7 linked regions of the Homo sapiens genome follow. The protein of the gene in region 3 interacts with the protein of the main gene of each other region in a pairwise test. Each region holds a gene or a part of one and is shown on either strand. Other genes may lie near its edges. The genes, in order: PRPS1, ATXN1, GPR75-ASB3, BAG6, PRKN, SPRED1 and TARDBP.

Region 1 (4,715 bases), on a different chromosome or scaffold from region 3:
GGATGGTCTCGATCTCTTGACCTCGTGATCTGCCCGCCTTGACCTCCCAAAGTGCTGGGATTACAGGTGTGAGCCACCATGTCTGGCCCAGATCTTTCTTTACTACTAGCTCTGCCCTTCGAGAGATTTCAAGCTAAAAGAGTCACTTTTAGGTTTTATGTTAAACAAGTCTGTGGTTGGGAGGCAGAGGCAGGAGGACCGCTTGAGCCCAAGAGTTTGAGACCAGCCTGGGTAACATAAAGAGACCTCCTCTCTACAAAACAATTTAAAAATTAGGCATGGTGGCAAGTGCCTGTGATTGCAGCTACTGGGGAGACTGAGGTGGGAGGATTGCTTCAGCCCAGGAGTTAGGAGCCATGATCATGCCACTGCACTCCAGCCTGGGTGACAGAGTGAGACACTGTCTCAAAAAAAAAAAAAATCAGAAAATTTTAATGCTGCTCACATTCATCCTCCATATATCAGCTCCTTGACCAAAATATGCATTTCCCTGGAGGAGAATGAAAGTCAGGCAGGCATATTGATTTCCAATCATGTATCAGAAGCCTATGGCTCTTGTTTCAGTCAAGAACACAGAGTATCATCTGTGCTCCAGACATTCACTTGCCAGAGTCAGGATGTTTGATTAAAAGTTGGAGAACAAATGAACAAATGTAGTTTGACAATTGATATCAGACAGTATAAGGGACAAGCTATTCTGCTATGTTTTTAAAACTTTATCATTATCGCTGGGCACGGTGGCTCACGCCTGTAATCCCAGCACTTTGGGAGGCCGAGGCGGGCGGATCACGAGGTCAGGTGATCGAGACCATCCTGGCTAACACGGTGAAACCCCGTCTCTACTAAAAAATACAAAAAAATTAGCCAGGTGTGGTGGCGGGCGCCTGTAGTCCCAGCTACTCGGGAGGCTGAGGCAGGGGAATGGCGTGAACCTGGGAGGCAGAGCTTGCAGTGAACCGAGATCAAGTCATTGCACTCCAGCCTGGGAGACAGAGCGAGAGAGCGAGACTCTGTCTCAAAAAAAAAAAAAACAAAAAACTTTATCATTATCAAGTAAGACCAGAAAACAACATTCTTAGACCACAGTGGCTTATCTCCCTTTACAAATGCCTCAACTATCAGTCAATATAAAAAATACCCACAAAATTGTTATATTGTCCATGATGTTACTCGATATCACTATTTAGAGGTCTCACCCATAAAATTCTTAGGATTTTTTGCCTGGAAGTTTCTAAATAACTTTATGAAAATAAAAACCACATAATCGATTGCATATGCCTTTATCCCTCTGGCTGTCAGGAAGCCAAGGGATACAGTTAAAAAAATGTAACACTAGGCTGGGGCGGTGGCTCACGCCTGTAATCCCAGCACTTTAGGAGGCCGAGGTGGGCAGATCACCTGAGGTCAGGAGATCGAGACCATCCTGGCTAACATGGTGAAACCCCGTCTCTACTAAAAATACAAAAAAAAAAAAAAAATTAGCCATTAGCTGGGCGTGGTGGTGGGCGCTTATAGTCCCAGCTACTCGGGAGGCTGAGGCAGGAGAATGGCGTGAACCCGAGAGACAGAGCTTGCAGTGAACCGAGATCGCGCCACTGCACTCCAGCCTGGGAGACAGAGCTAGACTCCATCTCAAAAAAATAAATAAATAAATACATAAATAAAATAAAAAGTAACACTAAACTTTAGAAATTGTTTTATGCCAAATAGTTGCCACAATTACTGTAGTCCATGGTTCTATAAGGCTTCTGATACCTACCTTAACAAACGGTTTGTACTAGTGACTATCAAACATACTTCAAATCCTTTCTTGAAAGCAGGTGAGATACTATTTAAAAATTAAATTATCACTGCTAATTAAAACATCAAAGGGCATCTGATAAATATATAGCTTTAATAGAGTTGATTATTTTATTTTTTAAATTGTATTTATTTTTTTTGAGACGGAATCTCACTCTGTCACCCAGGCTGGAGTGCAATGGTGTGATCTCTGCTCACTGCAACCTCTGCCTCCCAGGTTCAAGTGATTCTCCTGCCTCAGCCACCCAAGTAGCTGGGACTACAGGTGTGTGCCACCACGCCTGGCTAATTTTTGTATTTTTAGTAGAGATGGGGTTTTGCCACATTGGCCAGGCTGGTCTCAAACTCCTGACCTCAGGTGATCCGCCTGCCTTGGCCTCCCAAAGTGCTGGAATTACAGGTGTGAGCCACCGCACCCAGCCAAGGTGATTATTTTTAAAATATACATATTCTAACATCACATAAGGCTTGAATAATAATTTTTTATAAATCACTTATCAAACAAAAAATAAAAATAAATAAAAATCACTTATCAGCTTACCACCCAATACAGTCGCTAGTACCATTTTTGTTATTATATCACTTAATAATCAATCAACAGCTCAGCTATTTCTCAAAGCCAAACTTTTTTTTTTTTTTTTTTTTGAGATGGAGTCTCGCTCTGTTGCCCAGGCTGGAGTGCAGTGGCAGGATCTCAGCTCACTGCAAGCTCCGCCTCCTGGGTTCACACCATTCTCCTGTCTCAGCCTCCCGAGTAGCTGGGACTACAGGCGTCTGCCACCATGCCCAGCTAATTTTTTGTATTTTTAGTAGAGACAGGGTTTCACCGTGTTAGCCAGGATGGTCTCGATCTCCTGACCTCGTGATCCACCCGCCTCGGCCTCCCAAAGTGCTGGGATTACAGACGTGAGCCACCGCACCCGGCTCAAACTTTTTAAAATTAAAAGCTACCTTCAGCATAGAAGGTGTTTGTTATAAGGCATGTATCTAATAACTTGAAAAGGTTATTTAACTGTTTAAAAAATGTGGGGCTTTTGAAAAGATCTTACAAAAATGAAATAAAAGTAGAGAAACTTAGAAAGCAAATACATAAATAAAATAAGGTGGTGCAAGTAAACTAGGTGATACTGCCTTGTTTTAATGTGTATAATTCTAATTTCACTTATTAAAACCAATCTTTCCCTATAGTAGTACTATAACATACAGACTTTGTTTGACAAAGTCTTAAAAAGTCCGTGAATTGCACTCTGATTATACAGCTTGGTTCAACAAGTCCTCTAAAAATCTTAACCTTATTCTTATGGCTTCTTCTAAGTTATGGCAGTGATCGAGAAGAATATTTGTGCCTAAAACCTGTTTGCTCCTAACATAATCTATTAAGTGGAAAAACCTAATTCAGCAATTTAGAGAGTAATACTCCTTGTTCTCTCCCTCTAGTTAATGGAGTGTTCTCCAAATGGCTTTGGGCCAATCATTCTCTCAGCTGTTTTGGTGAGGCCAGAAGACTGGCTATGTCTATCCAATGAGTGAAAAAACTAGCTTCTCTTTTCCCTTTCCTTTAAGGTCAGGCATAAGTGTATCCAATTGAAATGGAATGTCAGGAAACACCAAAAGTGAATCTAAAAGGTGGATAGTAGTCTTAAGAAAATCTGAAGAATTTAGATTATGGAGATATTGGCATGTGCAAAATACATGGGATTAACTAACCACAACCAGAAGATACAGTTCTCAGGAAAACCCTAGGCAACCAAAGTTCAAGTCTTCCTCCTCTCAGCTAGTACAGAATAACCAAATAAACCAAAGTTATTTACAAATATTGAAGAGAATAGAGTCAAAATTTTAGAATATCTAAGTTTTTAAAGCCAGGTGAGAGATCTTGTCAGCAAAAATTTAAAGGAACAATAATACCCAGAGCTGGGCAAGTTACTCTGCATCTTACTGTAGTTCTCTTCTCTGTAAAATAGGGATAGTAAGAGTTATTCCTCATAGCAGTTTTGAGGGGATTAAACACAATGTATACTAAATGCTTAGCATGGAAACTAGCACATCTTAGGCATTCACTATACATTAAATATTATAGCCGGGCACGGTAGCTCACACCTATAATCCCAGCACTTTGGGAGGCCAAGGTGTGGGGGATCACCTGAGGTCAGGAGTTTGAAACCAGCCTGGCCAACATGGTGAAACCCTGTCTCTACTAAAAATACAAAATATTAGCTGGGCGTGGTGGCACGTGCCTGTAATCCCAGCTACTCGGGAGGCTGAGGCAGGAGAACTGCTTGAACCTGGGTGGCGGAGGTTGCAGTGAGCTGAGATCGCACCACTGCACTCCTGGGCAGTAAGAGTGAAACTCCGTCTCAAAAAATAAATACATAAATAAATATTATTAATATTGTATTACTGCTGATGAGACAGATTTGTTCAACTTTTCTGGGGAATAATTTGGCAACAGGTATCAAAAGCCTGAAAAATGGTATCTACCCTTTAACTTAATAATTACCTTCCTAGGGATTTATTCTAAGGAAATAATCAGAAATGGTCAAAGATTTATGTTCATGGATTTTCATATAAAAGCATTAGATCAAAAACTGGAAATGTCCAATAAGAATTTGGTTATATAAAATTATGGCATAACCATAAGGTAAGACTATATAGCTATTTAAAATTACATGAACTAGCCCACCTCAGTGGTGCATGCCTGTATTCTCAACTACTTGAGAGGCAGAGGCAGGCAGATCACTTGAGCCCGCGAGTTTGAGGATGCAGTGTGCTATGATTGTGCCTGTGAGTAGCTATTGGACTCCAGCCTGGGCAACATAGTGAGACCTCATCTCTAAAAAATAAATTAAAATCTTTAATAATAAAAAAAGAAAATCATATATACTAAATATTAAAGGGAGAAACTGTTCAAAATA
Region 2 (4,715 bases), on a different chromosome or scaffold from region 3:
AATTACCAATTATCCACATTAAACAGAAAAAAAAATTTTTTTAAAATCAGTAGCAGGGTTACTATAAAATCATCCCCAAACTAGTGAATGCTGGACTGATTTTCAGTCTTTGATTACTGGAGCTGATCTGCACATTTGCTTAGGCTGATTTTAAACTTAGTTTGGGTTTCCTAAGCTCACGCCAGGTAACAGTAGGAAGAAGGAGGCCCAGGTTTATATTGGATGTCAGAAAGAAACTATTCTGGAGCTATGAATATGATCTCCAATGTGAATAATCCGTAAACAGGTAAGTGAGCCAATTATCCTTGGGTACATGGCAACACATCTCGGTACTCATGATTATTTTCATCCATACACACTCACTATTTTTAAGAGCACAGCCCAGCTGGAAAGGAAAATAACTTCCACTTCTTTCCAGCACTTTTCAAAGTAATGAACAGTAGCCAAAATGTTCTTACTTCTAACTAATCCATTCACCAAGCATTTATTTAAGCATTGATTGCCTGCCGAGGACTGATATGCAAAAGAAGGAATTCTTGTAGTCCTTGGTTTCCCCACATGTGATCTGTGCGTACAGAGAAGGAAGGTAAGCTGTTATACACTATAAGGTCTTTCAGATCTTTAGAAGGCACAGTCCCTCCACCAAGAAGCCTGTTGAGTTACAAATATAAATAATGGCCAAGTTAAGTAGAAGTTGACAAAATTCTATTTAATCTTAGTACTTCTTTAAGGATGAGGAAGCAGGGAGGGAGGATCATGATGTCATCTCAAATTAAGCATCAAAATACTTGATTCTCAAATGAGGTGCAGGTACCATAAATTTACAGACAGTGCTTTTTATGAGCTCACCAGTTGGGAGAGTGTTTGCCTATATGACAATGTGTGTGCACACAATCCTGTTTACATATCACCTGGCAGATAAGGTTTTATAGAGTCCAAGTTACAACCTCCTCCTAGTTTGCTGAAGTGCAGAGGAGGGTCAAACATGATGTAAATGCCATAGAAGATTACTTTACTCTTGCATGAGTATGCTTTCTTATTTCAAAAGTATTTGTGTTGCTGCACTAGTTAGGATAATACAGAGAGTTTACATAACTTGTATTCCATCAGAGGGAAGAAGGCAAGAATACAAGCAAGGCAGCACGTATTCACTGCAAAAACTTACAAAATAATATACCAGAAAATAATTTATAGGACATTTTATACAATAATATACACCAAAAATGGAATACTCAATATTTTTAAAACCCAGCAGAGCAACATAATACAATACTATTAATATTGGAAGATTAACAAGAAAGACGGCCTAAACAAAACTGAGGTAATGGTCAGTAAGTACCAGGAGATAATGTGAGAAAGGGGAACAAAATTAAGGGCACAAGAAAATAAAGTTTGCCATACACAGTGACAGAAAAATATATTTTCTTTGAACGTTAGAAGGATAGATGCTATAGGTTAGTAGCTACAATAACTGTCACGAAAAACTTCTGCTACCTAACTCATTCAAAACTTGTCATGTTAAAGGGCACCTAAGTGTAAAAAAAAAAAAAAAGAGTTCCTCTTAGCCCAAATCAAAACATCACAATCGGGGAAACCTCTGCCCTCTTGAGTCTCAAATTCTGAGTACACTACCATGAATTTTCTGGAAAGTAATTTTCAGGTAGGATACAATTTTTGCTTACATTGTGGCAATTATCATTACATTTTCATTACTCCACAAATGGGATGCATTAAAAGTTACAGAAAAATCAATGAAACATTTCTGCTAACATGAAATATGTCAAACAAAATATAATGCTTGTTGCTTTTTTGTCCATAATTGTTCTCTCTAAACGTGTTTTGGTACATTTGGGATGGTAGTAATGCGTAATACAAATATTTATAGTACATTAGCCTGAAAGTTCAAATTATGAGCGTTATAAAATATATTACTACACTAATAAAGACAAATATCCATAAATATAATTATAAAAGAATAAAATAAAAAACTTTCCATAAGATTTGTCTAAAACCATTCTTTTTATTACTTCTGTAATTTTAAGCATTTATATATTTTTAAAAATCTCAATGTAATTACCGTTCTTTCAGCCAACATTTAAAAAATTCTGTAAAACTGACACTGTATATCACTTCTTAAAAAAATTTTGAATGAGTACATTTATTTTATTAAACTAAATTACATGAAAATAAAATGTGAACATAATTGATGACTTAAAATTCTTATCTTAGAAAAGGAAGTTCTATATGTAAGGTCCTAAAACAGAAATTATTATTTCTATTACCATTTCTACAATGTATTGCTTTCAATGCTTTTATCAAAATAAGGAGGGCCTGCTTCTGATAACCTTGGAAGTATGACCAGAACTAAATCTGTTATTTGAAGCAATTAAGCTGCACAGATCTAAATCTCTCACAGAAACTAATCATTCGAACTATTGAATTACTCTGAAAATACAGAGCAAGGAAAGTCAAATAATCTATCTCTCCCCTAAAAATAATAGCCTGTCTTACTTCACTATTGTCACTTTACCGATGCAAGTATTTAAGCTGTTCAGATCCTAATCTATGTGTTATTTTCAGATAACTACAGTTTAAAGAATTAACATTCACTCCCACATTTACCTACTTACGTGAGTTTCAGAATTTTAGTAAAATATGTTTATTGCTTAACTTTTAATAGGAAACAAAATGAGTGTTAGTGTTAGTCATCAGAAACTGTCACTCAAGGTATGTGCAAAAAAGTAAAATCCACTTGACATTTCAGAATGAAAAACAATAAAGGCACAACATTATTCAAAGAAATGTGCGTCCTTGGACTCCATAATGACAACAAAAACAGGAGTCATAGTAATGTTTACTAATATTTCAATAATCTCAGCACTGGCCTTTCCCAGGACTCCTAGGCAACTGACTTAGGTATGTTGAAACTTACAGGCATTTGACATGTAATCTTGTGGCTAAAGAGTTTCTGTTTAATCTTCCTCTAAGTGTAAAAGACAATTCAGAAGTCCTGAAGTCTAGTCGTAACATTTTTGACAAAGTGTCACTTCTGTTTACCAAACCCTCTTAAAACGAAATCCGCAAGGAAAAATATTGCCTTTGGCGGTTCCCACCAGGTACATTTTTTTATACTTATTTTCACATGAATTTATTTGTGCACTGAAAAATATATGTTCACATTTTACTGCAAGTAAAGCATTTTTCTATATGTTGCAAAATAGAATCCAGGACCTCCAAGGCATTGTGTAATATTGACATCCTTGCTTCCCATCTATTTACCACCTTATAAAAGTTGAGTAGCTAGAAGAAATAATAGCTCATTTTAACTACAGCAGTGCTTCATCTGACCAGGCCACAATGAATTTACCAACCACATAAACTCACAAAACGGTAAAAACTCATAAACCCCCTGGGAATAGAGTTGAGTAGCTCTCTCAATCCTAGCCCTGGGGGAAAAAATTTACCAGTTTAGCTTTGTTGGCCATAAAATTGTAAACTGACTGGCAGTCACAACTAAATCAAGACATAATTCTCAATTATCTTTTCTTTCAAATACCAGGGTTATGAAAATACTCCCCCCCGCCCGCCCCCTGCCCCACTTAGTTGGATTGCCTGAGCAGCACAGAGCTTCAGCAACTAAAGCAACTTTTCCTTTTTTCCTTTTTGCCATAATATTATTTCTCTTTGCTTAGCCAGCTTTATCAGTGGTGCCCTAATGCAAAGACTAGAATACTGCTTTCTAACTGCTCACTAAATTACATCCTAAAATAAAGTACATGTTTATTGTCCAAAAGCACCATGCACTATCAGTCCTCTAGCTATAGGCCTCTATCGTTTCTCGCTTAGCTAAGGAAAAAAAAATCCTTTTAACTTACTACCAAAGATCATTCAAATCACAGCCAATAGATCCAAATTAAGAATGAATACATTCAGAATGTCTGCCTACTGTCAGTACCAGTTTTTGTTATGATGGCTGTCAAGTTTTAAAATGTGACAATGGGAATATATTTTCCGAATAAGTTATTCCCCTGAGTAAACCCTTTAGAAATCCAGCCATCGCTATGGGCAATGGAGGTTCCAAATGATGAACGCTCTTCACACTTGAAAGGGTTAAGTGACTGACTGCAAGGCCAAAGGCACCAGACTGCAAAAGAAATGTTGCTTTAGTGAGCTCTGAAAGGTTTCTAACAAGTACCAAATACTTGTTGATCTGTTCACAATAAACACCAGCAGGATTGTCAGGCTCCTTTCACTGTCTGGGGAGATGCATTTACATACTGCACCTAGGAAGAACAGCTTGTTGGTCTCCTTTATAAAAGTTGAGTAGCTAGAAGCCTCATTCAGTGTCTCCCATCCAAATGACTGAAAGAAGATGCAATTGAAATAGTGGAGTCTCTCGTCTGGCTTGGGCAGCATAAATGCTGTGCATAAAACACTTGGAGTAGTTCAGGCACAAGACAAACCCACCTGAATGGACGAGGAACACTGTCTGTTGCCATGGCAGCCTGATCTAATTACATGAGTGATCAGGACTGGAGTAAGTGCACCGAAAACCTACACCACTGACAGGCAGCCAGGAGGTTCAGGGGAGCCCTTCAACCTCTGCTTTATGTAGAAGATGGCATTCAAGTCCATTTATTTGCGGAGCTGCTAAAATATTGACTGATGCATGCACAGTGAGAGGGCAATCAGAGGAGATTAAATGCCACAGCGCT
Region 3 (3,802 bases):
CGGAGGTTGCAGTGAGCCGAGATCATGCCACTGCACTCCAGCCTGGGCAACAAGAGGGAAACTCCTTCTCAAAAAAAAAAAGAAAAGAATCATATGATAGCAGTTTCATTTTCCAAGATGAAAAGTGTTAAATAAAGAAGTTAATGTCTGCTTTTATGTGAATCGGACCAAAGCCTTTTGTTAATTCAAGAAATCTTTTATAAATCCCTGTGAAATTTAACAATGATGAACAGACCAGGATCAGAGCATCAAAGACAAGTACTATCAAGAGCACAGCTGATACCAGACCAGCTAGTCTGATTCCAGGTATAGGGTTCTTTAAACTCTAATACCCATAGGGCTTGAGACCAATTAATTCTCTAACATCTTCAATATCTTCCAAGCCATAGAAGTTAACTCATCATCGTTTTTAGTTTACTAGTTTAGGTTTAGTTTAGTTTATTCAGAATTAAAGAAATCACTCAAACTGGTGTTTCAAAATGCCAAATAAGAAAGCAAAAGTTATCGATTTTGTACATAAAACCTAAGTCTAAGCTGGGCATTTTCTTAAATCATGAGTCATAGATTCCCTATTATAAATAATAAGATTACAGTATCTATAGTATATAGCACGCACATTTATTTCTAACTTTTTTCATATCCATATCTTACTTAAATTTGACACTTTTCTGTAAACTTAAAGGAGAAATGATGGTTCTCACATGAAAGATGGGAAGACACAGGTAAAGGGGCCACTGGAGGAAGTTGCAGGAATACATATGGAAAGCAGGCCCAAGCTGCAAACACCACCGTTTTCCAAAGGTTTAAGTAGATTGACTATGTTCAACTATCAAGTATAAGGAAGCCCTCTTAGTAGGATCATGAACAATAATTGGTCAGTTAATAGAAACTCACCTTAAAGCAGGTGACCACAACAACCATACATACTTTAAACATTCTAATTTAAAATGGATACATGAACACATCTAGAATGCAACATCTATGGCTTGCAGTTTATTTATGTATTTTTTACTCACCACTATATAAATAAGGACACAGTTTCACTTTCTTTGAGTTACAGCATGGATTTAAAGGCATGTATGAAACAAGGTGAGTGCATAATCCTTCCATATTTTTACAGGTTTTTTTGCTTTCAGTTGTTGTAGCCACGTCTAATTCAATATCTATTTCTGTTCTGTGCTTATCTTTATCAAGTCTTTTGCATTCTACTTTGCCTTAACAGCAACAATGATTCTCTTTTCACACTCATAATTCATTAGCTTGTGCAATCTGGAATTATTTAACTCCAATAATATGCACAACGTAATAAAAAGTTTCAGAAATAAGCATAACTGCTGTTTGGTAAGCACACACCTCTGCTGGTAGGAACACTGGCATTCTAGAGTGTAGCTGGCCAGCTGCAAACACAGAGCATGCCAATGGACATAGTCAGATGGAAATGAAAGAGAAAATGACAAGACTGTTTAATCCAGTGTGTGTTTTTAAAGAGAATTTCTACTTATATTCAGTTAGAGTTTAACAGGCATCTGTTAAATTGAATCTCTTCATTCTGCACATTCTTAGGAACATGAATACTTACTACACAACCAGAAGGAAGATAAAGGATGGCTGTGCAACCCGGAGGAGAGCTGCTCACATGGAGATAAGGGATCCTTAATGATGCTCCAGCTTCTCAGAGTGGACAGACTACACTGGCTTAAAATTCTATGGGCTGACTGGGAAGATTCCTCCAGATACCCTAAAACTTAATGTAGTGCTGACCAGCTTTTCTAGATTATGTGACTACATCACTGGAGGTCTATCTTTAAAGCTTAATAAATCATTTGTTTATGCTAATTATGTGTAGAAGCTTAACCATTAGTGATCAAGCCACACTAGACCAGTTCGCATTTGTTAGGAGAAGCGTAACTGACTTGCCCACTGAGATGTGGCACATCAACAACATAGCTGTTGTTAACTAGATCTCAATGATTTGACTCCCAGTCCAGGGTTCTTTAAACTATGATAAGCTCAATATAATTCTCCAACATCTTCTAAACCACTGAAACTATCATAAATTTCAGAATATCTTTCCATTTAATAATAAAAAAGGAAAAGTATAGCTACTTCAGGTATTGGTTCAAATTTTAATTGCACCATTTTGGTTTTCCTTCTAAGAGCACAACAGATCACTGGCCTAATGAACAATTAGAGGTAAGAACTATGTTCAGCTGAACTGAGGGAGTGTTTCATGTGTAGATTATTAACACAGACAATAATATGCCTGTCAGTGCCATTTTTGTTTAATATGCCAGTAAATACTAAGGGAATTTTATAACCATATATGCAATATTTCAAAGCACACAAAATCCCTATGAAAGTTTTAGTGATGCATAGTTATTTCCAGACGTGTTGCCACTAGGCTAGAAGATCAAGCCATGCCTTGAATTTATAATACGAAAAAGGCCACAGAAGCTGTATGTAAAACATACTTTCATGAAAACCTATTAAAACTATATTTTAGTTTTGTTAAATACATCTCCATGTTCTTGGATTATGGCAGTGATTGTAACCTAGAAAATGACGTCTGAAACCATGCTACACTTCTAAGTCACTTTTCTGACCCAATCATTTTTATTCAATATGTTAAACTTAGTTTATCCATAGATCTATTAGCAGATGAGTAATATTTAACTTTTAATTCCTATACAGAATTCCTCTATTTTGTTCATTTTGTTATATGTACTGGCAGAACAATCAAAATAGAAGACTACATGTTGTTATACAAAGTTTTGTTAAAATCAAAAGCACACACAATGATCAAAATAAACGTCACAATTCTTAATTCATTATGCTTATAAATGCCAACTTTACTATAGCACAAAACTATATCTATATCATACACACCCACTATATTTTCTACATTCATCTTTAGCCTTCCCTCAGGCCAATGTTCAAACAACCTATCTGCCTGAACTACATTTCTCTGGTTCCTTTGAAATGTTTTGCACATCAAATGCATTTATCTGACTTCTGAGACACCTACTACCATTTTTATTTTCATCATTAATATATTGTCTTTCTCGTTGGTATCCATCCTTTTGTTCCCAGTTTTTCTTAATTTACTTGTGTTGTCTCTCTCATTGACTATAACTAAAACCGCTAGAAAAAACACAAAAAGCAAGTACCTGAGAACTCTGAAAAACAAGTAATAGATTAGGACATGAAGTCAAAACAATAGGAATGGCCAGTATAAAGGAATGACCAGTAGAGGCAATGAATGGATTAAATGGAAAAGCACCATCTAGTAGTAACACCTGTGCTGGCGCTGAGGTGCCACTATTAACTAGCTGTGTGACCCTGGGCAAGTCATCTAAATATTCTGACTTTCAGTTACCTTTCCATAAAATGAGAATAATGCCTCATCTACAAAATGGGCATAATGACACTTCCCTGCATCAAAAGGCTGTTGATGATGTTCAAGTTGGAACACATTTGCAAAAGCATTTCATAAAGTGAAACACCACACAAATCCCAGGCACCACAGAATCTAGTGATCTCCAAATGTTTTGATTACACACTAAATTAGTAAAGTCTCTGACCACAGAATCCAATATATATTTTACATATAAATTACATGTATACTATTAACCAAACATTATTTGTACTATAAAATAAAATAAGCCAATATAAAATAAGATATATACTTTAAATAATTTCATTTTTAAAGGTATAAGACTCCTTTAAATATTAATATTTTAACAAGAACAAGGTGATTGACTAGGCTTTATTAATGTAATTCTTAGTGATCTAGCAATTCAAA
Region 4 (4,715 bases), on a different chromosome or scaffold from region 3:
TGCAAATAAATTATATCTTATTCACATAAGGAACATCCTATTAAAACACTACTATGAATCAGTAAGTCATCATATACTGATCTCCTGTACTTTACATTTTCTAAATTCATTCAGGGGCACAAGGGGTACGATACGAGGACAGTGCTTACAGCAAAGATTATCACCTTCTCTGTAAGGGAGGACAAAATCACTTACAGGTTTAGAGAGAAATTGTTTTGTTGCAATGTGTGTTTTTTTGTTTTGTTTTGTTTTTTGAGACAGTCTCGCTCTGTCACCCAGGCTAGAGTGCAGTAGTGCAATCTCGGCTCACTGCAACCCCCTCCTCCCGAGTTCTAGCGATTCTCCTGCCTCAGCCTCCTGAGTAGCTGGGATTACAGGTGTGCACCACTACATCCAGCTAATGTTTATATTTTCAGTAGAGATGGGGTTGCACCATGTTGGCCAGGCTGGTCTCAAACTCCCAATCTCAGATGATCCGCCCACCTTGGCCTCCCAAAGTGCTGGGATTACAGGCGTGAGCCACTGCACCTGGCCCTGTTGCAATGTTTTTCCAGGGAGGGAAAGAGTTATCTGCATTTCAGCCTGTTCTGTTTTGGGAGTACTGGGGCTGAGGAGAAAGGGCAGGGCCATCAAAGGGCTCACATTGTTATTGTAGTCCGTGGTGGCAGCAGCACCCAGAACCTCGTAGTAGCGCTGCAAGAAGGGCTGGAGGCGACTCTCCAGCCGCTGTAGCTCCTGGAGCACCTCGACATACTCCGCAGGGGAAGGATGGCTGTGGACAAACCCAAGGGGCAATGAGCCAAAGCCTTCCTCAGATTCCCACCCTCACAGTCAACAGGGACCACATGTGCCCTCTTTCTCCCTGGTCTCCCAGAGCCCTGGCCCAATCCTTCTCTGGACCAGCAGAGCTTCTATTCTCTTCAACCTCCGCCTCCCAGGTTCAAACGATTCTCCTGCCTCTGCCTCCCAAGTAGCTGGGATTAAGTTGCCTGCCACCACACCCGGCTAATTTTTGTTTTTTTTTTTTTTTTTTTTTTTTTGAGACAGAGTCTCGCTCTATCACCCAGGCTGGAGTGCAGTGGTGCGACCTCAGCTCACTGCAAGCTCCGTCTCCTGGGTTCACACCATTCTCCTGACTCAGCCTCCCGAGTAGCTGGGACTACAGGTGCCCGCCACCATGCCCAGCTAATTTTTTGTATTTTTAGTAGAGACGGGGTTTCATCATGTTAGCCAGGATAGTCTCGATCTCTTGACCTCATGATCCACCCGCCTCGGCCTCCCAAAGTGCTGGGATTACAGGCGTGAGCCACTGTGCCCGGCCTGTATTTTTTAGTAGAGACAGGGTTTCACCATGTTGGCCAGGCTGGTCTCGAACTCCTGACCTCAGGTGATCTGCCCGCCTCTGCCTCCCAAAGTGCTGAGATTACAGGCATGAGCCACTGCACCCAGCCAAAGCTTCTATTCTTTACTCCCACCCATGAGAGGATAGGGAGAAGAAAATGAACTGCTCCCACCCTCCCCACCACAATCCTGCACCTACAATGGTGAAAGACTAATTCTAAGAAAGAGAGCAGGCCTTCGTGAACTCAGAGGAGAATTCCGATCAGGCTCAGGAGATACCATTTGGATTTCCTTGCCGTAGGGAGAGCAGCAGTTCTTCTCAGCTGCCTGTCCTAGCGTCATTTACCTATACCGAGAGAGCCCCTCCTCGCCCCTCAATGCTAACCCTTCAACTAAGACCTCCAAGTAATCCTTTCCCTCCCTTGCCATGGTTCATTTCCTTCTCCCCATACTTCACTTAGGATTCCCCACCCACTAAAGATTCCCTCCATCTCTCACTTGGGTGCATTTGTTTCCGGGGCAGGTGTTGGGCCCGCTGGGGCTGGGCCAGGAGTGAGCTCCGGGTTCTGGGCTGGGGCACGCTCCTCCACTTCTTCTGCCTCCATGGGCTCCCGGGGAGGTGCTTCACTTTCAACTGGTTCTGATGTTTGAGAGCTCAAGGCTACTGGCTCCGGGGTCACAGCCGGTGGCTGCGGGGGCGGCTGACTGTGCTGCGGTTGGGGCCCTCCTCGACACTGAAGGTAGGGGAGAGTCAGGATACCAAAGGCAGGGTAAGACTGCTGCAGAGGATTACTCTACAGGAGACTGAACAGAGAAAGTATCCTAACTAGACTCCCTGAAGGCATGGCTCTGCAATTTTATCTCCGACTCGCTAGCAACTAGCATAAGACTGACACAAATTAGATGCATAATAAGCATCTGTAATTTTTTTTTTTTTTTTTGAGACAGAGTCTCGCTCTGTTGCCCAGGCTGGAGTGCAGTGGCATGATCTCAGCTCACTGTAACCTCCGCCTCCCAGGTTCAAGAAATTCTCTTGCCTCAGCCTTCTAAGTAGCCAGGCCTACAGGCGCGTGCCACCACACCCAACTAATTTTTGTACTTGTAGTAGAGACAGGGTTTCACCATGTTGGCCAGGCTGGATTGGAACTCCTGACCACACGTTATCCCCCTGCCATGGCGACCCAAAGTGCTGGGATTACAGGCAGGAGCCACCACACCCGGCCACAGCATCTGTAATATTTGTAAATAAATTTCTAACAAAGAGTAGAGATTGTGGTTTCCTTTCCTCCACAAGTTGGTTTCCCAGCCTCCACAAGTTAAGAGAGTAGAATCCTTTAATTGAAAAGAGATGCCATGAGACTAAGTCTGAAACAAACTCCCCAGATACCAGGCACCAAGAGGATTGGCAGAAATGAGAGAGCCTCACAAAGATACTTTTTCTGCCCAAAAGAATGAATACTGCAGAGAAGACTAGATTATGAAGGCCAAACCCTGTGGATGTGGCCAGTGAAGCCCTAACTCCCAGGCTGAGAGAAAAGGGAGAGGGAGGGTGGAGAGAGACCCTAGCCAGCCTTGCCCACTTACCTCCATCCGGGATAGTAAGGTCTGTATATCCCTGATCATGTGCTGAGCCATCACCAGCCGTACCCGGGGCTCACTCTACAATGAGAGAAGGTTTATCAGGGTAGGTTACAGATGAAGCCATGAGTTCTACCACCTACTAAATCAGGTCCCAGCCATCTCTCAGCCAGGTCCACCCCACCTCCCAGCCTCCTTCTCCCAGATCCCCTTCCCTGACCCTCGGAGGCCCCTCAATACCTGAATCGGGGCCTGTTCCATGTTGATGTGAACATCCACAGCAGAGCCGTCACTCTGGGGAAAGGGTAAGGGAAGTTGTTCTGGGAGAAGCCAACACTAAGGCCTCCACACCTCCAATTCATTCCCTGGAGCCCTACCTCCTTTTCTCCTTAAAGACTGAGACCAATAGCACACCACAGGGCCCCCTGAACCCAATCTAAAGATGGAAGCATCTATCTTATTAATTCCCTGGTGCTACCACAACCAAAGCTACCCACAAAAGCCCTCCCCTGTGGAACATAAGCTTACAGGAAGATTGAAGGTTCCAACCATGACATAGCTGTTGGCATTCCGGTCATGAACAGAGGCCCCAGGCCCCCGAGTACCAGGGGGGGATCCCCCACCATGAGTGGCTGAGGCAGACCCCGTCCCAGAAGATGCCCCAGAAGGGAGGTGAGTCTGAGGAGGAGCCCGTTCCACCAGGTGGATAACCTTTCCCCCAACATCTGCAGAAAAATAGACACACACCAAAACATAGTATGAACAGGTAAACCCATGGCCTCAGTTCATCCCTCCAGACAGTAGCCCCAACCTCTGAACTGCCTCCCCAGCCCCCTTACTGTATTCCTGAAGCTTCTTATCATCTTGCAGAACTCGTCCCTGGTAAATGAGCCGTTGTTTTTCAGATGGGATGCTGACAGAGGCAGCAATGTGCTCCTTAAACTCTTTTACATTCATCTGAAAAGAAGAGGCATGCACAGGAATGGAAAGAATGGAGGAAAGAGGAAGAACAAAGACAGACAACCGAGTTGTGGAGGTGAGGGGTAAAAACCACCACAGAATCACTACCCGTTTGTCTTGACCGTGAGATCATTACTGTGCAAACCCTTAAACTAAAGTAACAGCTGTCAAAATACAGACAATAAATTTGGCTTGGCGCGGTGGCTCACACCTGTAATCCCAGCACTTTGGGAGGCCAAGGCAGGCAGATCACATTAGGTCAGGAGTTCGAGACCAGCCTGGCCAACATGGTAAAACCCCTTTTTTACCAAAAATACAAAAAAATAAGCCAGGCATGGTGGTCGCCTGTAATCCCAGCTACTAGGGAGGCTGAAGCAAGAGAATCACTTGAATTCGGGAGGCGGAGGTTGCAGTGAGCCGAGATCGCATCACTACACTCTAGCCTGGGTGACAGAGAGGGACTCCATCTCAAAAAATTAAATAAATAAACTTAATGAAGCTCAGGTTATAGATCCAGGAAAAATAACACGGATGAAAAACAAAAAAAAAACACATGGACATTATATTATCTGTCTGGCATCCAAGGGAGTATGTGTCTAGAGACATCAGTGACCCCTTTCCAAACACAAGATGATACCAGTTTATTTACCAGACTCTCCTGTGATTTCCAAGATTAAAAAATGGCAAAGAAGATGGGGTCTGGTATCAGGTTAATGAAGAAAGACTAAGAAGATAAGAAAGCAAAAAAGGTCCCAGCACAGTGGCTCACACCTGTAATCCCAGCACTTTGGGAGGCCGAGGCAGGTGGATCACCTGAGGTCAGGAGTTCAAGACCA
Region 5 (4,715 bases), on a different chromosome or scaffold from region 3:
TGCTGTCGCCTCTGCCATTTGGCACACAAATGGATGCTCCCTGAGGGTGCCCTCCTCACAGTTTAGCTCATCACACAGGCCTCGCGGCTGCTGTATATTACGGAACTCCCCACCAATACTCTTTGTCCCCTTGACTCTGCTGTTTCTCGATAGAACACACACTTACTAGCTGCTCCAAATAGAATAGCTCCGTTGAGGTAGGCATCTTGTCTGTTTCTATTTTCTGCTACATCCCAGTACCTGGCACTGTGCTTGGCACAGAGTAAGGACTCAATCGTTATTTGTTTATGTAGTTCGTTAACTGTATGACGGATATTGGAGGAGCCTCCTATTTTTTTGCTAGGTCCAATAGCTTCATCTCATCTGTCAGGAGATGATGAATGGCGCCTCATTTAGGAAACACCAATAACACATGAAGGTAATTTACACACAGGCACCCTGGAGCCCAGGTGCAGCTCAACGTTCTTATTGAAAATGTAGTAAAAATAGATTTTATTCACTGACCATATTTTAAGGAATACTATTTTTTACTATTTCGGGCAGTACTACTCAAAGCACAGCCCCTGGGCCCGCGGTGTTAGCATCACCTGGGAGCTTGCTGGAAACGCAACTTCTCAGCTTCCATCCAAGGCCAACTGGTCTGGGCCCAGTCATCTGTGCTTTTATAGGTCCTCAGGTGATTCTGATGAGCACTAAAGCTTGAGTGGCACTGCTGTAAAAACTACTTCAATGACTCGTTCCAGTTCTTTGACGTCCTCTTACAAGTCTTTAGTGTGACATGCTTGCGTTCTTAGTACCAACAGTGTAACTGGTTCTTCATGTACATCATGTTATCACCTCTCATGTTGACCACTTATCTTTTGCCAACTAAAAATACTTGAAAGGCACCTTCTCGGGTTTCAGAAGTTTCCATTTGTTTCGACAACATATGAGGCTACAGCCCAGCTATTCACCCATTAGAGCCCTCCCACGTCCAGCCAGCACTTATATTCTTCGAAGTTAAAATTGAAGACTCTGGAAGCACAGAAAATTGGGATTTCTTTTAATCTCTTTTTCTGAGGCACAGGTTTTCAAACATTGTATAACCAAGGATTTTTTTCATCTTTTCAAATGATAGATGTTTTATGTGTTTAATATGTGAAGTACGTAAAGAGGAATGGTCTCAGGCTGCTGTGATTGGCTTGGTGTGTTCACCTCTCACCGACCTGCCTCTGTTCTCCCACCCAGCGTCCGATTGTTCCGTGAGAACAACAGGTAGGATCCATAATTGTAAGGCTGGAAAACCTTAGCCATAGGGCAGAGTTTCTCAGAGTATGGTCAGTACCAACATTTTGGGGCCTCTACCCCCAGACAAATACATCAAAATTTCTGGTCACAGAAAAAGAATGAAAGAAGATTTTTTTTCTCGCCATTCTGGCCATCAAAGAAACATGGAAAAACATGCAAGATAATTCTGCACATGAGAGTCTGTGAATCTCTGCTCTAGTAACTTTACGCTATCATTTTTAGTGAAGAAAAATAATCATATAGGCATACTGTTTGCATATAGTCATTTCAAATCATTCCATTCAGTCTTAACTCAAACCAAGAATGAACCAAGACATTTGAAGAGATGAAATCTCAATTTCTCTGTATAATTTTAAATAAAGCATTCGCTCTAAAAGCTAAATGCACAGGAGTTCTGTTGAATGACTGACTATGTTTACAATTTGAAGCAATTTAGTAAACATGTATCACCACTCTTCTAAGAGATTTTGGGGAAAACTACAGTTAATTGGACAAAAACTCCATCCTCAAAGAGATTAAAAGGTGAAGTCAGAACTGGAGTACAAAATAGCAAGTAATAAGGGAGAGTCCTAAGAGTTCTGAAAAGGATTCCCTCCAGTTCTAATGAGCAGGAGAGGATTACTTGTAGTTTAGCTGTTAGTTTAACACAGAGTTAAATCTGAAAGTTGACCTGGGATGCACCATCTCTCTTTTCCCAATCTTTACAGATGCAACATATCTTTACAGAGGCCTTTTAGTAGCAGCATGTAGGGTGCCAGGAAGTTGCCCCCAGTGTGTAGTGGTGCAGGGAGAAGTGTTAGGATGGCAACCCTGCAGCCCCCAACTGCACCATGTAGAGTTGCCTGAGCCAGTCCCTAGCCTGCCAAAAGCACAAGGCTGGCAGGCCACAAGACAGAGGGGTAAATGAGAAACAGGGTGATCAGAGGTTAGATGTGACTCAGACATGAGTGGAAAGTCAAGGTGAAACAGCGCATCATCATAGATCATACAGTACTCTGAAGGCTGCTGTCATTTACCACATTCCATAAATTTACTAGAATTTATTCTCTATTGTTTGGGTTGAAATAATCACACATTTCAATTTAAAAATATAAAGAGAATATTAGACATTTAGCAGAATTTTCTCAGTGCCTACTGGTACTTCAGACCCTATATAGAGAGAATACTATATTTTCTTAAAATATTATGGTCTAGAGAGAGAGAGAGAGTCAGTTGAAAGTGTCAATAATTCTAAGTTCATTCTCATAAAAGAAAATTCTGGAGAAGACCAAGGGCAATTTTATGATAAAACAAAATAAGAAGACTAAAATTTTCAGATGAATATGGTTGATAAGAGAGTAGAGCCAGATGCACTAGGAAATGTATTAAAGAACATGAATATGTACACAACAGGATTCTTGTGCTCAAATTGTTTTTAATATTCAGATAATAAGTAAAGGTTTAATTTTGCTCTAAACAATGTGATTTTTTTATTTTTAGTAAGAATTTTATTTTGGGAAATCAAATTAAAGAACTAGTAGATAGGTCTCCTAACATAATAAATCCAATCTGTTATACAGTTGTACAGGAACAAACATAGTAAATATAGGGTTTGGTACCATTTTTGGTTTCAGGCGTACACTGGGGGATTTGAAACGTATTGCCTGTTGATGGGGAGGGACAACTGTACATGTGAGACACCCAGAAAAAATGCATAAATCTCAAAGAGGTGCCTAAAATTCAGGCTTGAATACCATCTTCAATGGCAAAGGAAGAAAGGGAGAGGAGAAGACAAGAGTAAGGTTTGTTAGGCAGATTATTCAGTTGGTGCCTTCTCAAGGATCAGAGTCTCCAGAGACTCTGTCCTCCTCATCCTAGTAAGGAGAGGGAGACACCCTTACAAATGGAGACTTCCTTGGTAGATATAAATTTCCCTTACAAAAGGGTCACTTCTACTCTGTTTTTAGAGCTTTTCCTGTGTCTACTGTTTCTCAAAATAATCAGCTTAAAATAATACTTATGCTAAAGTGGCATATTTTGGGGTGGCATATTCTGGTCTCATACACACTCAAGGTGGAATTTTCCATTGTTTGGTTTATAATGTTGGAGCATGAGTATTCTCTAGAGGTGTCAGTGTCAGAATGATCTTATACATACTCTGGTTGAAACGTCAGAATTGTTATGGGCTTGGGTTCGATATTTATATTAATATATTATTCTGGTCACAAGAGTATTGCAGGGGTTTAGATTTATCTCATTTTTCCCCATTTTTGACATTTATTTCCATTTCTCAATTTTTCTTTCCAGACCTGAGGTGCCCAGCTCACATGAAGCAGAGCCTCTTTCCCTCCCACAATCATCTCAAGATCACCAGAGCATCAGTTAATGCCTTACTTTCTGGGCTTATCTACTCCTGTATTTAAAGATGTTGTTTCTACATTTTCACTTGTCCTTGGAAATTATCTTTTTTTATTTTTTGCAAGATCATCGAAAATTTTTAAGTTCCTTAAATTTTATTTAGTAAGTTTAGTAGGAGGCATTTCTTATTATGTTAGGCTTCCATCTTGCAGGCCCCAGAACTTTCTGACACTGTGAAGGCCATACCAGCCCACAACTGCCAGGATCTATTGTATGTGGGAGGAAAATCAACTTCTACCCTGTAAAGTCATTGTGATTATTTTGTGTCTTCTGTCAAACACAGTAAAAATTAATTCTATTACACCTTTGACTATTTAGATTAGAGAATAAAAGACTAAGAGGCACATATTAATTTTTTTAAAATAACTAAACAATAACAATCTTTGCCAAAGAAAAGCATTTTGAAATGGGTGGTAGCATAGAGAGAAGGAAGAGTCCTTTCACACTAAGGATGTCATTGCCATTGGCATATCTGGCTTTAGAAACTACAAATGGCTCGATTAGCTTTAGAGTTCTTTCTGCTTTTTAGAATTTTTCTACATCACTAGAAACATATCTCTTATATTTAATCTCAATATGAAAACCTGTTTCATAGTACTTACAATAAATGCATTCTCAAATGTTACATCAAAGTACTCCACCTACAGTGATGTCTCCTTGTAGTGAATTAGAGACTCCAATCCAAAACGTATCATAAACTAAATATGCACCCGGTGAGGCCATGCTCCATGCAGACTGCACTAAACAAACAAACAAAATGCTTTAATAATCTTAGAGCATTCCAATTACCTGGACTTCCAGCTGGTGGTGAGTCCTTCCTGCTGTCAGTGTGCAGAATGACAGCCAGCCCCACAGAGTCTCCTGGGAGGACTGAGCTGCTGAGGTCCACCCGAGTCAAGCTCTGGGGCTCCCGCTCACAGCCTCCCGCCGCGTTTCTGGGGTCGTCGCCTCCAGTTGCATTCATTTCTTGACCTTTTCTCCACGGTCTCTGCACAATGTGAACAATGCTCTGCTGATCCAGGTCACAATTC
Region 6 (4,715 bases), on a different chromosome or scaffold from region 3:
AATTTTCCACTGGCCTCAACTACTATATATGCTGAAGATGTCACTATAACTCTACCCTCTTAACCTTTTTGAGAACTCAACCTATAGTTAAAGCACCTTGTTGGACACTTTCTACCTTGACATCCAGTAAGCACCCAGACTAAAAAAGATCAAAACTGGGTTATTTTCCCATTTAAAAAACCGGGTTCATCTCTATTCCCACCTTCATTTAAAAGCATTACAGCGGCCTAAATTTAAAATGTTCAAGTCATCCCACAACCTTCCTACTCCTTCCTTCACATTCAGTCAAATAATCGTTGGACATTTGAATTTCTTCTCATATGAGTCCCCAATAGTTCCAAATGCTCTATTCCCAGCTCTGTTTTGTTGTCTTACTACATTCTTCCTCATCAACTGAAGTTCATTTTCTTCTCCCTCCAGTCAACTGTCCTAAGAAGCCCTGCTTTACACAAATTGGATTATCATTCCCTCACTTAAAATACTGAGTCGCCACTGTCTACATGATGAAAACTTCACCTGGTGTCTCTCATTAAGTATCCTTACTGACTAAAGATAGTTGTGGTGAGGAGGGAAGGTAGCTCAAAGAACAAATTTTCTTTCAACTCTTCGGTGTTTCATCTATAAAATTAATGGGAACTCTGTTCAAAATTCATCTTATTACTAACCAGTCAGATAAATATTCAACTTTTCAAGAAAAACTGATTTCCAGGGGCTTCTGCCATGCTCATATTGTGTCTCATATTTTAGGCCTAGCCACCATCCCTTGCCCCACAGTTGGTGATATACAGGTAAGCACAAATCTACACTACTCACAATCTGGTCCCTCAACACTTTCCTTAACAACTCCTCCAAACAACTGTATCCAAAAAGGTATTGCCTTTCCTCCAACTTTTTCTTCTTTCTGTGCTTGTCTTCTGCCCCCTCTCTTCCTGGTTGGAATACCCTTCCCCCATTCCATGCTCTCATTCATGGCTGACTCTTAAAATGCCACTTCTTTCCTGAAGCCTTCCTTCACACAGTCACCATCCTGCCACCAACTCCCAGGTAGAATCACTTTCTCCTTGAGCCTTGAAGAACTTTATAACCAGAACACCCATCACATTTCAGAAGTATCTATTTCCCTTGTGGACTGTGATAGCGATTTTAAAGTTTTAATTATCTTTGTATCTCCAAAGCTAAGGCAAAAGTCAAGTGCCTAGTAAGCACTCATTCAAATGCCACTGAACTGAATTTCTTTAGGAAAAAGTTATTAATGGTCCCTGTTCAAATCTATCCTGAAAGTGTAAAAAGTCAATATATATAATCCAGCAACTAAAATTCTGAAATGTTTAATACTGCTTTTACATATTAAGGGGGGAAACCCCAGAACTCCCCAATCTCACAGTATAAAAATAACACAATAAAACAGTAAAAAAAAAAAAAAAAGAGTTTGGTGACTGTGCTGAAGTGAATAAAAACACTCTGAAGTGGTAAAAGTTACAGTAACTTTGAAAAAGTGGCATCAGAAAAGACACAACTCACTAAATTTTATCTAAATTTTTGGCAATCCTGCCACGGGATGCTAATATATAGAAGTCATTAAAAAACACTGTATTTGTGAATGTAATTCCTAACTACATGAACAGCTCAAGCAAAATGTGTTTAATCACATGCAATAGTATCACTAAATACTACCAGGAAAAAGAATTACATTCCACATTCCAAGTTCATAATGGCCTTTATCCAAATTATAACTCCTGTTAGAAAGGCGTGAACCCAGGAGGCGGAGCTTGCAGTGAGCCGAGATGGCGCCACTGCACTCCAGCCTGGGAGACAGAGCAAGACTCCGTCTAAAAAATAAATTAAAAAAACAAAAACAAAAACAAAAACAAATTATAACTCCTGTCATACAGATTAAATTTAGACATAAAATTATTAAACTGATATTAGGCTGAAATTTAATTCCAATTACTCTTGAATTTACTAAAGGTTATTCTTTGCTCTCCAAACACAGAAAGAAATGCCTTGCAAGGTAATTCAGAAATTTCAGACACAAGGCAATTTCCACCAGTCAATCCTACATCTGAGTAACAGAAATGATATATTAATTCAGAAGTACAAAAAAATCAGTTATGATTCTAGAACTCTTGGACTAAAATCCCAAAGTTAAGTAAATCCCACACCCTCGTTTTAAATCAGAAAAATTAAAAATCTGAAATTCTAGAGAGCAGAAAAATAATTTGTCTCTATATTTATGAACATTTACTTTATTATGGGCAGAGATTAAATGACATTTCTGGCATTTATTAAGATCGTATCATTTCTCTCCATTAATCTTCAAATGTGATAAAATGCACTGCTTTTCTCATGTTGATCCATTCTTACATCCTCAAGATAAACCCCATTTGACTGTGAGGCTTTGTTTTGTTCTAGTTCGCTGAGTGAGGTTTGATTTGCTAGTTCTTAAAAATTTGCAGCCACTATTTGTAATATTTCGTCTCCTCTATTCTCTTCTTTTGGAACTGTTAGCTGTATGTTGGAGTTACTCATCTTATCCTCATGTTTCTTACTCTTCCTATTTTATATCTCTATCTTTGGGTTCAGGCTTCTGGGCTTCTGTCCATTGCAGAAGATTTTAGCCTTTTGTGTCATGGATGTTTTTGGCAGCCTGGTAAAGCTTATGACCCCTTTCTCAGAACAATATTAGGGGCCTAAAACAACATACACAGTATTACAAAAGAAATTAATTATATTGACATAGTTATTGAAATATTTTTCATTTTGATATGGTAATAATGCGGTTCTTTATTAACACTTTAAAATATATGCTCTAGCAATAGCTTTAATAACTATAATAATTTCAAATTAGTGATGACTATAAATGGTATTTCAAGATAGCTGTAACAGCTAACAGCAATTGTGCTATAAGAAAAAAAAAATCCGTAGTTTCTATTGGTGTTATGGGTTGAACTGTGTCTCCCCCAAAATACATGTAGAAGTCCTAGCCCCATGACCTTATTAGTTAAGATGAGGTCATACTGCAGTAGGGTAGGCTCCTAATCCAATGACTGGTATCACTCAAATGAAGATAGAAACACACAGGGAGAACACCGCCATGTGATGATGAAGACATGGAATTATGCAGCTCCAAGCTCAGGAATGTGAAAGGTTCCCAACAACCACCAGAAGCAAGGAAGACAAAAGAAAGGATTCCCCTACTGGTTTTAGAGGGAACATGGCCCTGCCAACTTTTTGATTTTGGACCTTTAGTAATTGTGAGACAATAAACTTGTTGTTGCTTTTTAAGCCACCCAATTTGTAGTACGTTGTTAAAGCAGCAATAAAAACTAACACATTTGCTGTCACAAGTACCTCTAATACTGTCATAGCTTGTTAACACTTCCTTTAATTATGAATGTTCAGGTTGAGATTAGTAAGAACGTCACATTTTCCTTCAAGCCCGCAAACACTCTGAATTTTAAGAATGCTTTGTCTACAGCAACATAATACCTTAGCGTGAAATCCATTATTAATGAACTGTTTTTCATTCTGAGTATCGCAAAAACACAATCTCACAGATATGTAATAATTTTGGTTCTGGATTCTGAGATGCAGCTATGACATAATACTTATCATAAATCTAAACATTAAAGAATAACAAAATTCATTACCTGAGTTAACTTCTTAAACTAATATACAGTTATCCCCTAGTGTTACATTACTGATTTGTATAAGTGACCTAGTAAAAAACTTACTTCTGTAAGTAAAGCATAAAGACTGGTATCTTGTTAGCATATTCCTTGTAGAACTAATCAAGTTGGTGTTTAAGCCCAATAGCCTTTGTTTACTTATTCATCCACAGATGGAGGCCATACTTTTTTTCTCTTTTTTAAAATGAGGGCTGTGCATGGTGGCTCATGCCAGTAATCCCAGCCCTTTGGGAGGCCAAGGCAAGAGGATCACTTGAGCCAAGGAATTTGAGACCAGCCTGGGCAGGACCCGATCACCACAAAAAATTTTAAAATTAGCCAGGTGTGGTGGCACACCTGTCGTCCTAGCTACTTAAGAGGCACAGGTGGGAGATCACTTGAACCCAGGAGTTCAAGGCTGCAGTGAGCTATGATCATACCACTGTACTGCCCTCCAGCCTGGACAACACTGCAAGACCCTGCCTCTTTAAAATAAATAAATACATAAAAAACAAAATTGAGTAGTACAAAATTTTGTGTCATCAAAGATACATGGCTATTAAGCCCAAAGTAAGTCTTAAAAGACTATTAATATACCAATTGTTTCCAAATTTTGTATCTTAATTGTTCAAAATGCATGCTTTTACCTAATCTTCCTACCACTTCTACTCTTAAGTCTTTTGTTTAAGTATGTCAAAAATAACAATATAATAAAATTAACAAAGTCTAAATCATACACCATCAACAAAGGAAGGGCACATATGATGCTTAGTCCAAATTCTTTAATTTATAAATCAGCAAACTGAGGCCTACAGAGCCCAGGATTAGAGAATAAATTAAAAATAGCTACAAAAGAAATCCATCTCCCAATTTCAAGTCCAGTGTTCTTTAGACTATACCATACTGCACAGAAGATGGTAAGAGTTAAATAAATGATGTACAAATGGCTTTTACATGAGCACTTAAATTCTATTTATAATATAGCATTTAAAAACATTCTAGTTACCGCAAAACAACCTAATAAGTTTTTAAATCAATTTTATTTTA
Region 7 (4,012 bases), on a different chromosome or scaffold from region 3:
AGTCATCTTTGCCCACCCAGTGTAATGTCACTGCTCAAATTACATTTCATTACCTTAAAAAGCCAGTCTCTTTTCATACTGGCTGTTGGCATTTCTGTAAACTGCCTGTCCATGCTCTTTGTTTTTAAACTTGTTCTTATTGATCTCTGTAAGTGCTTTATATATTATGGCAGTACTGATTGAGGAATAACCTTGAATCCTTTTTTTGGGTAGGTAGGTTGGAAACACTGATACTTCAGCCCAGGTATTGACTAAAATTTCCATGTTAAAAACCAATACTACAGAATGGTGGGATACAATTATTCACTTATCAAATTGTCAGACAAAAGGAACGTGAATAGTAGTACTATTTCACATTGTTAAAGACAACATAAACTTCCCAAGGACTATTTGGCAATACATTTTAAGCAAGACCAGGCATGTTCAGGGAGGGTGGCAGGCCACAGACTGGCAATACATTTCAAAAGCCCTTAAAAAGCATGCATAATCTTTGACCTAGCAATTCCAATGCTAAGAATTTATTTTAGCAGTAAGGATATTCCCAGCAATTGGAAATAACCTGAATAATGTTCAAATTCAGAAGACTGAATCAAAACATGGCATTTCCACAAGATGAAAAGTGGCATTAGAAATAAGTGGTGACATTATAGAGAAATCTGTATTTTTCCTCTTTACAATGAACATGAAATACTTGGGCACAGTGATGCCTAACAAAAGCACACATCACACAACAGTTAAGTACAGAACCCTAATACACACTTAGGGGCTACTTTGCTCATACTCAACAACAACAAAATCATTCTTACTGTTACACATTATCTCTTGGATTACGGAGTAGTTAACTTCCTACTTTTTCCTACTAAGGACACAACTTAAGTGCTGATTTAACTTTAAAAATCTCATTTGGTTTTAGCTGGCTATTCCTTCCTAAAAGGTTTTAATAGCTAACATTCAAGTTTTTCAGTCTAACTAAAAGTTACCATTCCATGTAAAAGCTTACTGTGAGTCTTGGCCTCATTTCTCTTGTGCATATGAAGTACAACTTCTTGAGACTCAATTTTTATTATTTTCTTTTTTCTTTAGAGACTCAATTTTTAAAGGTAACTTTCCAGCATCTGTATATCACATATAAAAAGAAATCGTGTTTTTCCAGTAAGACTCCAGACACTAAACTGTGGTGTCAAAAAAAAATTTTATTTATCTGGTTCAAAAAATTTTTTAGAATGAATGCATTTAGATTGACCAAATAGATTTTTAAAAACAAATCTTTGCCAAATAGTTTAAGTACTTTTAAACTTCAAAATCTTCTTAGGGTAAAATAAATACCCGTATCTATGCAGTACCATAAACATGTTAATAAAAGGCCACTCAACATTGAAAGCCTTCTATGACCAGTAACTGAAATTTACACAAGTGTAAAGAAGGGATTAAACCATGCCGTTGACAAGTTAACTTACCCCTGGGCTCCTTGAAGGCTTGTCAGTTTAGTCTTTGGAGGTCCCCGAGTACCATTTTAAGTGTTACCATGTTACTGCTGCTGAGTAATAGTGCAAGTGCTAAAATGCAAAATTCAGATGGTACAGGGTTTGGAAATCATGCAGATTCAGATGCAGAAAAAAAAAATTAAAACAACTCAAGATCCCTTTACAGAGGAAACTGAATAATGAAACAATGTGGCGATTACAAGTCTAAAGGATGACTTCATTGATAAATGTTTATGTAACTTGCAAAATGACAAACCTATTTATCATAATCTAATTAGGTAAGGGCATTAGGTAAACTACCAACACAACAAATATCACATTCTTCCAACTAGAAAATGAGCTCAACTCTCACAGAATTAGTTACAAAAAAGTACAACAGAGAATCAATGTTATTGCTTTTACATACTTAACAATGCATTGTGAGAGTGTGAGTTTTGTAAGCGATTTTATTCAACTGTATTCAATGTTACCACATTCCCCCACCTCCTGGAGGACAAAGCCCATTCCACTTAACACTTCCAGACAGACAACCCACCCTAATTCTTAAAGCTATCAGGCCTCTTAATGGATTTCAGGCACAAGATAATTTGTGGTTTCTTCTACTTTATCCCTACTGCAATTAATTCCACTTTTCAAATCCCAAACTAGGAAGGTGCTGATATTCCCTTTTCAATTGATATGCTTTGCTACAAAGCATTAGAAAATAATCAACATTTTGCCCACTCCCCCAAATAAGAATCTTTTTAGAAGGCATGACTTCCCAATGGAGATTTACACAGGCCATGTAAATAGAACATCACCCAAATGCACAGAGGCACTAAGAAAAAGCCGGAGGGTACTGCTTACCATTTTAGGTGCGGTCACCCAGACTTATTCAAAACTAGATTTCAAAAGAAAAAAAAAAATTTTCACTTTGGCCAATGCAAGAACAAATACCAATTAAGTCTGGGTATCAGGTGTCAATGCATGACAGGTGATGAATCCATTTGACTTGAGACAACTTTTCAAATAAGTTTATTTGAAGCAAAATAAACTACTGCCAAGAAACTTTATGAAAGTTCCATCTCAAAAGGGTCAAAAAAGGGGAATTAACTGCTATGAATTCTTTGCATTCAGGGCTGCAAAACAAAGACACATATTATTTAAATCAGTTTTATTTAAGAATTTCCAACAATGACAACTCTTATAAAAAGCATCCAAGCACAGGACACAGAACTGCAGCAAACAGCATTCTTATGGGTAGCTAACAGACATTAGAACTTCCACCCTTCTTTGAGACACCTGAGCTCACTGGTGAACTCTGCTTCAAGTCCTCCTGCAAAGCACACCACAAGCTCAGTCCATGTTCTCAGCCCATCAGCTTCAGTTCACATTGCCACACTTACATATCAGTAACAGAAGAGAACACACACCATACAGCATTCACAGCAGTTGACAAAGGGGTAGGGGGAGTACAAGTATCATTTCACTTAACACATTCATCTAATGTGGGTTATCTAAGAACAAAAACTCACTTAAAAGTCTTCCAACAGATGTGGATGTCCTTTGAATGCAAAAAACATTCGTACATTATTTGCTATCATTGCTCTCTGCACACTCTCTCACCAAAGCCACAGGATTGAGAGACACATCTCGCCAAGTTAAAAAATATCCATTATGCACCACCAAGTCTCTGCACGCGCTCTCTCCTTTTCTCGCTCATACTAGCCTTTCATGCCTCGGCACCACCATCAATCCCACACAAGGTTTCAAAAGTTCAGACAGCCTTCTGGTTCCATATCACAGCCTTGCGTTCATAGCGTTGATACGACTCCATGAAATAAAGAGTAGCGGATAAAAATGGGACACCCACCGTCAAAGACGCGGCCTGTGATGCGTGATGACGAATTCTTGAATGAGAAAGCATGTAGACAGTATTCCTATGGCAGAATATTTACAGCACTACTTTCAATGAAGTGCTTCTTCCATAAACATTTGAAATGAGATGAACTGCAGAGATTAAATGAAGGCTTCATATTGTACTTTTGTGTATGAGGGGAGACAAGTGTTAAAAAACAAAACAAAAGAACCAAACACTGTGACACCATGATCTCCTAAAAGGAGATTTTCTTAAGGAAAAAAATCCATATGGTGGGGTTCAAATTAAAACAAGGGGTAAAGAATGTAGTTCTAATCAATGGTTTCCGTTTTGAACATGCAAAGAATTCACTTGACAAGTCCAGGGATAAAATATTACAGGAGAAACCTTTTGATATCAATTGTAGTGTGTTGGTTTACCAATCAGGCAAACAGCAGTTCACTTTCAACCACTCAATATTTCAACCTTTCATGTAACAAAACTTATAAAATTCCTTTAGCTCTTCCTTTTTCTAAAGAAAAATGTCAAAAATACTGCTGAATATACTCCACACTGAACAAACCAATTTTGAAAATTCTTAGTACATATGTATTTTACAATATACTTACCATGAGTTTAGAAAAATTTGAATTCCCACCATTCTATACCAACCAACCACAACCCCACTGTC

Evidence for each region.
Region 1: the proteins of GPR75-ASB3 (region 3) and PRPS1 interact in binary tests that used the Homo sapiens proteins (3 or more experiments, as listed by UniProt).
Region 2: the proteins of GPR75-ASB3 (region 3) and ATXN1 interact in binary tests that used the Homo sapiens proteins (3 or more experiments, as listed by UniProt).
Region 4: the proteins of GPR75-ASB3 (region 3) and BAG6 interact in binary tests that used the Homo sapiens proteins (3 or more experiments, as listed by UniProt).
Region 5: the proteins of GPR75-ASB3 (region 3) and PRKN interact in binary tests that used the Homo sapiens proteins (3 or more experiments, as listed by UniProt).
Region 6: the proteins of GPR75-ASB3 (region 3) and SPRED1 interact in binary tests that used the Homo sapiens proteins (3 or more experiments, as listed by UniProt).
Region 7: the proteins of GPR75-ASB3 (region 3) and TARDBP interact in binary tests that used the Homo sapiens proteins (3 or more experiments, as listed by UniProt).

What each region holds. Positions count from the first base shown.
Region 1 is NC_000023.11:107,631,152-107,635,866, reverse strand, and holds part of PRPS1 (ribose-phosphate pyrophosphokinase 1), read right to left. Parts: intron 1-4,715. UniProt on the Homo sapiens protein: Catalyzes the synthesis of phosphoribosylpyrophosphate (PRPP) that is essential for nucleotide synthesis.
Region 2 is NC_000006.12:16,754,182-16,758,896, forward strand, and holds part of ATXN1 (ataxin-1), read right to left. Parts: intron 1-4,715. UniProt on the Homo sapiens protein: Chromatin-binding factor that repress Notch signaling in the absence of Notch intracellular domain by acting as a CBF1 corepressor. Binds to the HEY promoter and might assist, along with NCOR2, RBPJ-mediated repression. Binds RNA in vitro.
Region 3 is NC_000002.12:53,671,690-53,675,491, forward strand, and holds part of GPR75-ASB3 (GPR75-ASB3 protein), read right to left. Parts: intron 1-3,802. UniProt on the Homo sapiens protein: Probable substrate-recognition component of a SCF-like ECS (Elongin-Cullin-SOCS-box protein) E3 ubiquitin-protein ligase complex which mediates the ubiquitination and subsequent proteasomal degradation of target proteins. Recognizes TNFRSF1B.
Region 4 is NC_000006.12:31,645,752-31,650,466, forward strand, and holds part of BAG6 (large proline-rich protein BAG6), read right to left. Parts: intron 3,877-4,715; coding exon 3,759-3,876; intron 3,645-3,758; coding exon 3,448-3,644; intron 3,214-3,447; coding exon 3,160-3,213; intron 3,001-3,159; coding exon 2,926-3,000; intron 2,076-2,925; coding exon 1,840-2,075; intron 773-1,839; coding exon 643-772; intron 1-642. UniProt on the Homo sapiens protein: ATP-independent molecular chaperone preventing the aggregation of misfolded and hydrophobic patches-containing proteins.
Region 5 is NC_000006.12:162,258,052-162,262,766, forward strand, and holds part of PRKN (E3 ubiquitin-protein ligase parkin), read right to left. Parts: intron 4,715-4,715; coding exon 4,474-4,714; intron 1-4,473. UniProt on the Homo sapiens protein: Functions within a multiprotein E3 ubiquitin ligase complex, catalyzing the covalent attachment of ubiquitin moieties onto substrate proteins. Substrates include SYT11 and VDAC1.
Region 6 is NC_000015.10:38,258,709-38,263,423, reverse strand, and holds part of SPRED1 (sprouty-related, EVH1 domain-containing protein 1), read right to left. Parts: intron 1-4,715. UniProt on the Homo sapiens protein: Tyrosine kinase substrate that inhibits growth-factor-mediated activation of MAP kinase. Negatively regulates hematopoiesis of bone marrow.
Region 7 is NC_000001.11:11,022,654-11,026,665, reverse strand, and holds the end of TARDBP (TAR DNA-binding protein 43), read right to left. Parts: coding exon 4,012-4,012; 3' UTR 1,174-4,011; downstream 1-1,173. UniProt on the Homo sapiens protein: RNA-binding protein that is involved in various steps of RNA biogenesis and processing.